Regions from separate parts of the Homo sapiens genome. Here region 2 is linked to region 1. Evidence: fine-mapped expression QTL. Tissue or cell type: whole blood. Region 1 holds a variant in brackets; the other region holds the start of a gene. All regions are shown on one strand. Distances are between the middles of the regions.

Region 1 (4,247 bases):
AGGTGGATCACTTGAGACCAGCCTGGCCAACATGGTGAAACCCCATCTCTACTAAAAATACAAAAATTGGCTGGGCGCGGTGGCTCAAGCCTGTAATCCCAGCACTTTGGGAGGCCGAGGCGCGCGGATCATGAGGTCAGGAGATCGCGACCATCCTGGCTAACACGGTGAAACCCCGTCTCTACTAAAAATACAAAAAATTAGCCGGGTGTGGTGGCGGGTGCCTGTAGTCCTAGCTACTCGGGAGGCTGAGGCAGGAGAATGGCATGAACCCCGGAGGCGGAGCTTGCAGTGAGCTGAGATCGTGCCACTGCACTGCAGCCTGGGCGACAGAGCGAGACTCCGTCTCAAAAAAAAAAAAAATACAAAAATTAGCTGGGCATGGTGGCGGGTGCCTGTAATCCCAGCTACTCAGTAGGCTGAGGCAGGAGAATCGCTTGAACCCAGGAGGTGGAAGTTGCAGTGAGCCGCGATCGTGCCACTGCACTCCAGCCTGGGCGACAGAGCAAAACTCCCTCTCAAAAATAATAATAATAATAATAATAATAATAGCTAATTCCCTTGTATCACATAAGTAACAGCCCTTTTAGATCTAGGTTTTAAGAAGAAAAGAGTTTCTTGTGGACCCTTCCTCTCTCTCAACCCATGTTAAGCTTCAGATTTTAGCCAAATAATAACAATCTTTCTTCTTTACAGATTTTATCAGGTCCAAAGTGGCAAGGAACTATCTCTGGTTCCATGAATGAAGAAGACATTGCATGCTGCATCCAGTTTCTTCACAGGTTACCAAAGAAGCAAGCACACCTCACCATAGCAAGGATTAATTTTTCTATCAAGTCAAGACAATCTAGTTTCATATTAAGAAAGCATAGGCTGGGTGCAGTGGCTCGCGCATATAATCCTAGAACTTTGGGAGGCCAAGCAAATGGATCACCTGAGGTCAGGAGTTCGAGACCAGCTTGGCCAACATGGTGAAACCCCATGTCTACTAAAAATACAAAAGAAAATTAGCCGGGCGTGGTGGCGGGTGCCTATAATCCTAGCTACTCGGGAGGCTGAGGCAGGAGAATTGCTTGAACCCAGGAGGCAGAGATTGAAATGAGCCAAGATGGTGCCATTGCACTCCAGCCTGGGCGACAGATCAAGACTCTATCTCAAAAAAAAAAAAAAAAGAAAAGAAAAGAAAAGAAAGAAAGCATATATTGCCCCTAATGTTAACATTTTTACCATATTCCTTCCAAAATGATAACACTAATATGACTGCACCAAGGAATTACTGAGTTTCTGAGCCTGCACTAGCTCTAACAGGTCACTCAGTCCCTCCCAGGTCATGGGTGCGAGCTCCAAATTCTGATCCACAACTCTCTCTCCTGACAGAAAGAAAAGGGAGGTCTTAGAACTTCTTAAGTGTATAATAGTTCACATTCTAACGTGTATCTGGATGGTTTCAATTATTTTTGCTGTGAAATATCAAACCATCGTATTTGAACACAAGAGAATGACATGCAGGAGTCACACAACAAATACATATAACAAGAGCACATTGGGGTGCTGGGAGGGCACGCGCTCTTCTGCAACTTCACCCCATGCTCCCTGTAAGATGTCCTTAGAAACAGAGGCCTGAAAGTCTGCTAACTTCAGTAAAAAGCAGGACATTTTAACAGCCACCCCTTCAAAATGTAAAAATATTGCTTCA[G/A]ATTGCCAAAAACCATTTTGCACTGAACATTCTGACCTTTACCCCAACCCTGAGCCTCACCCCATTCCTGAAGCTTGCCCTATCCCTGACCTTCTGAGCTGAGGGCCCAGCCCCAGTCCCTGCCCCAGCCCCAGGAACTACCTCATCTGATTCTCACCCTGACCCATGCTTGCTGACCAGGCCTCTGACTATCTGGCCTACCACTTCCATCTAGGCCCACTTACTGCCACACCTAGCCAGCCTGATTTTGGCTAGATCTATTTAGTCCTATTTAGCCAAGCCCAGTCCCAGTCCCAGTCCCAGTCCCCAGACAGCTCCTGTTTAACCCTGCCTGTGAGATGCTGAGTCTCCAGACCTGCTCATCTGGTCACACCTACTAGATTCAAGTCCTTTGCTCTATTTCTCCTGAAGTCTGGCTCTAACATCCGTCAGCCGAGCCCCACAGAGCACTACTTCCTGAGGAGCAAAAGAGACCTAAGACCTGAGCTCACAGGCTCCATCCTTTCCCAGGCAACAGAATTGTTTTCTCGGACAGTGCCTCTCAAAATGGAATGCACATTCGAATGACCTGGGAGTCTTGTTAAAAATGCAGATTCAGATTCAGTAGGTCTGGAGTGAGGCCCTAAAGCCTGCATTTCTAACAAACACGCAAGTGAAGCCCATGTTGGTCCAGAAAACAAACTTTAATTAGCACAGTTCTGGAATACCAATTATAGTTTTGCAAAATTAAAAAAAAATGTTTACAGTATCAACAGCCTTAATTTCTACTAAGGGAAGAGAACTCATCCCCCCATAGAATGCTCCAGCCTACAGAACTTAGAGTCTGTCCCACATATATTGTGCACTAATCACACAGTGCTTTGAATTTCACTCAATAGTTTCCTATATGTGTGTTTTATTATTCATTTGGTTCCTTTACAGCATTTGTTCATTCTGCAAACATTATTGATCATTAATCTATTAGGGCCATAAGAATATATAAGGCATAGTCACTGTGTCCCATAAGGCAACAGGCCATTAAAGAAGATAGATATGGGCCAGAAGCGGTGGCTCACACTTGTAATCACAACACTTTGGGAGGCTGAGGGGGGCAGATCACCTGAGGTCAGGAGTTCAAGACCAGCTTGGCCAACATGGTAAAACCCTGTCTCTACTAAAAATACAAAAAATTAGCTGGGCATGGTTGTGCATGCCTGTTAATCCCAGCTACTCTGGAGGCTGAGGCAGGAGAATCACTTGAACCCGGGAGGTGGAGGTTGCAGTGAGCCAAGATCACGCTGCTGCACTCCCGCCTAGGCGAGAGAGCAAGACTCCATCTCAAAAAAAAAAAAGATAGATAGATATGTAAGCAGATCTTTTCAGCACAATAACAGTATATGTATATAGCGTGGAGGAAAAAGAGACCTGTAACCCCATTGGAGTTGGGGAATCAACAGGAAAGCCATTCTGGGCAAAAAAGTAGCCTGAGCTGAATCTAACAGAGGAGTGAGTCAAATGAAGTGCAGGGGACCCACAAGGCAGAGGAGCAGCCTGGCAGAGGCCCCCGGGTGAAATGGCTGGGTCAGAGAAGAGCTGCACACACCCAGGTTGTTGGGGCACAGTTAGCAGGGAGGAAGCCTCCAAGAAGAGGCTGAGGTGTCAGCCAGGGAACGATCACAGGGACCTTGTGTGCCACATTAAGGATCTTGGACTTTAGCCTGTGGACAATAAGGAAACAATTTAAGTTTTTAAATAAGGCCAAGGCACGTTTGGGTTTTAGGTAAATCACGTTTGGTGACTGTGCAGAAAATTAAACTGAAGGTGCCAAAACTAGAAACAGGCTGGGCAAGGTGACATAAGCCTGTAATCCCAACACTTTGGGAGGCCAAGGTGGGAGGATTGCTTGAGCTCAGGAGCTCGAGACCAGCCTCGACAACATAGCAAGACCTCATCTCCACTAAAAATAAGTGTAAAAAATTAGCCAAGCATGGTGGTGCGTGCCTATAGTTCCAGCTACACTCTGTTGTCCAGGCTGTAATGCAATCGTATAATCATGGCTCACTGCAGCTTCAACTTCCTGGACTCAAGCAATCTTCCCACCTCAACCTCCTAAGTAGCTCAAGCAATCCTCCTGCCTTGGCCTCCCAAAGTGCTGGGATTACAGGCGTGAGCCACCACATCCAACCAATGCTACCTTTCTAACACCTGTATAAATATCCTCCTCTCTGTCCCCACCACTATTGCCTTACTTCTCATTAGCCTTTCCTGGTACCATAGCAAATCATCTCTTAACTGATCTCCCAGCCTCCAGTATTTTTTCCCTTAAATCAAACATCGGAGAAATGTTTCCAACAGACTAATCTGACTATCTTAGTCTGTTTTCTGCTGCTGTAACGTAATACCACAGACTGGATAGTTTATAAAGAATAGGAGTTTATTTTGCTTGTAAGTCTGGAGGCTAGTAAGTCCAAAAGACCATGTTGCCAGTGTCTTGTGAGGGTCTTTGTGCTGTGTTATCCCATAGCATAAGGGCAAGCAAGTCCATGAAACAGAGAAAAAATTAAGCCTATTC
Region 2 (4,132 bases), 37 kb after region 1:
AGGGGGAAATGACAAGAGACCAAGCTATTAAAAATAACCTAGAATTTGCCTGGAAATAGCTTAGAGAGTTCAGCATGTCCTAAAAAGGCCTCCAGTCCTCGAACTCTGACAGATGGAGAAGGAGGGAGGAAGGGAGGGAGGGAGCAAAGGTGAATGAGGAAGCAGATGGTAAACAGAAGAGGAGATGAAGTCCGTTGCTTTCTATCTCTCCCAAAGTTTTGGGGACCACCGACCCTGCTACCAGATGATAGGGATAATGGAAGAAGAAAGATTAGAGCTAGGCCCCCACTCCCCAAGCAAGTGAGGAGAAATGAGCTCTTGTCCCTGCCCCCTGCCCCCAGACCGACAGTAGAGGCAGAAGACAGTCCCAGTGGACAGCATTGATCCCAGTAATGGATACTTAATGTGGCTTAGGCACTGGTTGAAGAGAGAAAAGCCCCCTAGCAGGAGCAGGTGAGAAGCTTTCTTCACCTCTGGCCTCCCTTTTTACAATCAGACATGTAGCAAGAGCCAAGGATACAGGCAACATGACCAGTCACAGGCCCCTCACAAAAGTATATCCATCTCCCATGGGTCCTGAACTGATTAGAAAAAATTAGAATTGTCCTCCACCCCTTACTCCTCCTGGCCCTTCCCAGCTGCTGAGATTCCTGGAGTTGGAAATTTGCTAAGGAGGAGGAAGGGGAGCAGCCTGGCCAGCATCCTTCCTGGATCTCTCTCACTGCTACAGCTGCTGCGGCTACTACTACTGCTACTAGTACTTTGAGGGTTCAGTTTGCTGCCACTCTCTATCACCAAGCCACCTACTGCAGGTTGGCAGACCTGCAGATCCTCTCCCAATCTTCCCGTGGTCTTAAGCCACAGAAGTGGAAGCTCTCTCCTGGCCTTCCAGTGCCCTGCTGCCCTCATTCCATCCATGGCAATGCTCTAGCAGGAAGTTATTTCTGGAGTCTGCCCTGCATGCATCCCTCTCATGGCACCCTCAACTTCTATGTCCTTTCCATCTCCTCCCATTCTAAGCAGAGACAGACAGTCTCCCTCCCTTGGGGAATTCAGCCCTTGGAAGAAGCAGGGGAGCCAGAGGCCCTGGGGCTGGATCAAGGATGCAAGTTGGGGGAAAGGCCCAGAAGAAGGAGATGGTTCGCTGCCAAGACAAGAACCTTGCTTTCCAACTCATCCCTAAAGCAAAATACTGGTCTCAGGGCCGGGAAGTGCAGCTTCAGACGCAAGCCAGATGAGGCAAGGCTCCAGGTTGGGATGTGGGATGTCTGTGGGCAGTCTAGGTCTTGGTGGGGCTAGAAAACAGAGAAATGAGGAGGCCCACAGAGTGGGGAGGGGGACGATCTGTGGCTCGGGCATGGCGACTCTGGGCGGGTGCGGTGACTCACCAGCTCTGGGGTCGGGGCTGCAACTGCCGGTGCAGGGCCACAGAGAAGCCGAAGAGGCTGCCTGGCTCGCCCTCCTTGCGCAAGGCACCCATCACGTCCAGATTGAAGGCGACAGCCCGTGAGAAGAGCAGTTCGACGAGCAGGGAGCCAAAAAGGTAGCAAATCCCGGAGGCCCCCCAAGGGTCGCGGCTCCGAGCCCCGGCCATGGGACGATCCCTGCGCGAGCTCCCAGCGAATGCAAGGGAAATCTCGCACGCCCCAAGCCCCAGGTCCCCCCAGGCGCGTCTCTGGTCTCCAAAGTCTCGTTGGTCTTTCAGACGTCTCCCAGACGTTCGCCCCGCCAGCCCTCCCGCCCGCCCGCCGCTCCGCCACCCCGCCGCCCCAGCACCGGCTAGGACAACTACAGCAGCCGCAGCTCCGGCGCCCACTCCGGCTCCCGCCTCCTCTCCCGGGGACGCCACTCAGGCCCCGCCTCCGGCCCCGCCCCTCGCTCCCGCGGCAGGTGGAGACCCAAGCCCGTCTCCAAGGGGATGCCCAGGCTGGTGGCTGGGATGGAAACTAGCCTTGCTGACCCCCCACCACCACGCCCCCCAAGCCCAGCACCGTCTCCGGCTCCGCCCCTGCGCGGCGCTCTCCTCCCCTTCTCCCCCAACCCCATCCCCACCCCGGGAGTGGTGGAGGCGGCGCCTTGGAATGCGGAGGGAGAGAAGTACAGATAGAAAGAGAGGGGCTGAAACAGAGGAAGGAGGGTAAGAGATGAGAAGTTGGGAAGACGCTAAAAGACAACCTGGGAAGAGAGATGTGCAGATAGAGAGGAAATGAAAGGGGAGCCGTCCTGGGCCTGGGTGCAGCGTGGCATCTTAGTGCTCCCTGTTCCCCCATGGTCACATAGAGCACTCTTTCTGCTGTTGGGATCAGACCGCTGCCCTCCCCCATCCTATCCCATCCCCCGCCCCCAGCCCGGCAATGACCACAGCAGTGCTAGCCACATCGTCAGGATTCAAGGGAACAGAGAAAAAGAGGCAAGAAGAGAGAGAGAAACTCGGGAGATACGGGGAGCAAATGGAGAAATGGAAAAAGGAAAGGAATAGAGAGGAAGAAAGAAGGGCAAGAGATTAATTGACAAGGGATGGAATGAAGGGAGAAAAGAAAACGACTGGGGATGATTACAGGAAGAGGAAATTAAGCAGTGGGGAGGGGAGTGGGTGTCAAAGAAGGCAAAGATGAAAGAGACTGGACCCAAGAGGCAGAGGGATGTAAAGGGTGTCCCCAGCTACCAGACCCGTCCCAGGACTGCACATTTCCTATCCATGAAAGGGGATGGGAGGGGGCAGAGTCCTGGACTGGCTCAGCAGGACCTGGGTGGGGCTGAGATGGGATCTCCACAGGGACCCATTGGCCTGTCCCTCTTCCTCTCCCTTTCCCTCAGGCTGGGACAGAGGCAAGGGGGTGGGGGGACACTTTCCAACTCTCTGCTATTTATAACTCCGATACAGAAATGGGGCCAGAAGGAGAGACAGGAAATAATTTGGCATAATGGGAACCTCGAATGCTCCCACTTCCCCTTCCTACTCCCCTTGCTTACTGGTGTTGGTCTTGTGAATATACATCTGTCCATCTTCCCTTCTCTCTCTCACTATCTGATTTTGTCTCATCCCAAATTCTATTTTGTCATCATTCTTGTCTCTGCCACACTTGGAATCTTTCTCAGAGTATTTCTCAATGTTTCTAGTGTTGTCTCTGCCCTTCAAACACTATCATATTCTTACGATTCTTTCTTCTCTTTCCCTTTCTTAAAAGTTCCAATAAGTGTCCTACCTCCTTCCTCTTCCTGTGTTCTGTCTTTCCTACTTCATTGTTCAGGATTATACTTCTTTGAAAACAAAAAAAAAGTGGGTTCTTACTCTGCTGCCCTGGGACAGTCTTTGCCTTGGATAAGTTAACAGACATTTGGAAGTCTGGCCCTCTGTTTTCCAATACTACACCTGTGGCTATCCCCTCCAGAGCACTAACACATCTCTAAACAGGTACTATAAGGAAATACATATGCTGTCAGCAGGGCTGGCACCAGGATTCTACTTTCACCATGCCCTCCCCATCCTTTTTAATATCTCAGAGCCCCAGACAGTAGAGAAGAGCTGACATGGGAATGCAGAATTGCAAAATTAGGACAGAACTGGGACTACTGACTCCCTGCCCAGGTCCCCCCGCCCCCGACCCAGCTCAAAATGCCTTTAGAGCCCAAGCTGCCTCCTATCTGCACCTGCAGCTTCTGCCTGTCTCCATTCCCACTCCACTGGCTTCTGTGATCCAGGGCTGAAATCAGATGCCAAGAATCTGCTTCTGACCTCCTCTCTCCAAATATTTGAGAAGTCACCTCACCACCACAGGAGGAAAGATCAGGAAAGAAGAGAGAGAGAGGCCACCCAAAATTAGCCTGGCTATAAATAGAGGGGCAAAGGAGGGAGGGGAACACACAAGAGCGTGCTAGACCAGCCTAGTAAATTTAGACATGTAGATTTCTCTCAAGGAGAAATGAGACCAGAATGTTGGAGTGGAAGATAATATCGTAGGTGAAGAGGGAAATTAAGAAACTAGACGGGGCCGGGCGCGGTGGCTCACGCCTATAATCCCAGCACTTTGGGAGGCCGAAGCAGGCGGATCACCTGAGATCAGAAGTTCAAGACCAGCCGGACCAACACGGTGAAACCCTGTCTCTACTAAAAATACAAAAATTAGCCGGG

The links. PIP is the estimated chance that this variant, and not a neighbour inherited with it, causes the effect.
Region 2: ITGA7 starts here. The variant in region 1 is fine-mapped to the expression of ITGA7 in whole blood (TOPMed, PIP above 0.99).

What each region holds. Positions count from the first base shown.
Region 1 is chr12:55,668,599-55,672,845 of GRCh38, forward strand. No RefSeq gene overlaps it. Among named protein-coding and RNA genes, the nearest start is that of TMT1B, 11 kb to the right of the region's middle. The variant G/A (reference allele first, on the strand shown) is at 1,697.
Region 2 is chr12:55,706,089-55,710,220 of GRCh38, forward strand. ITGA7 (integrin subunit alpha 7) reads right to left here and starts at 1,816. Exons shown (of 25, transcript NM_002206.3): 1 at 1,389-1,816. The coding sequence starts at 1,594. RefSeq lists a silencer at 1,730-1,939.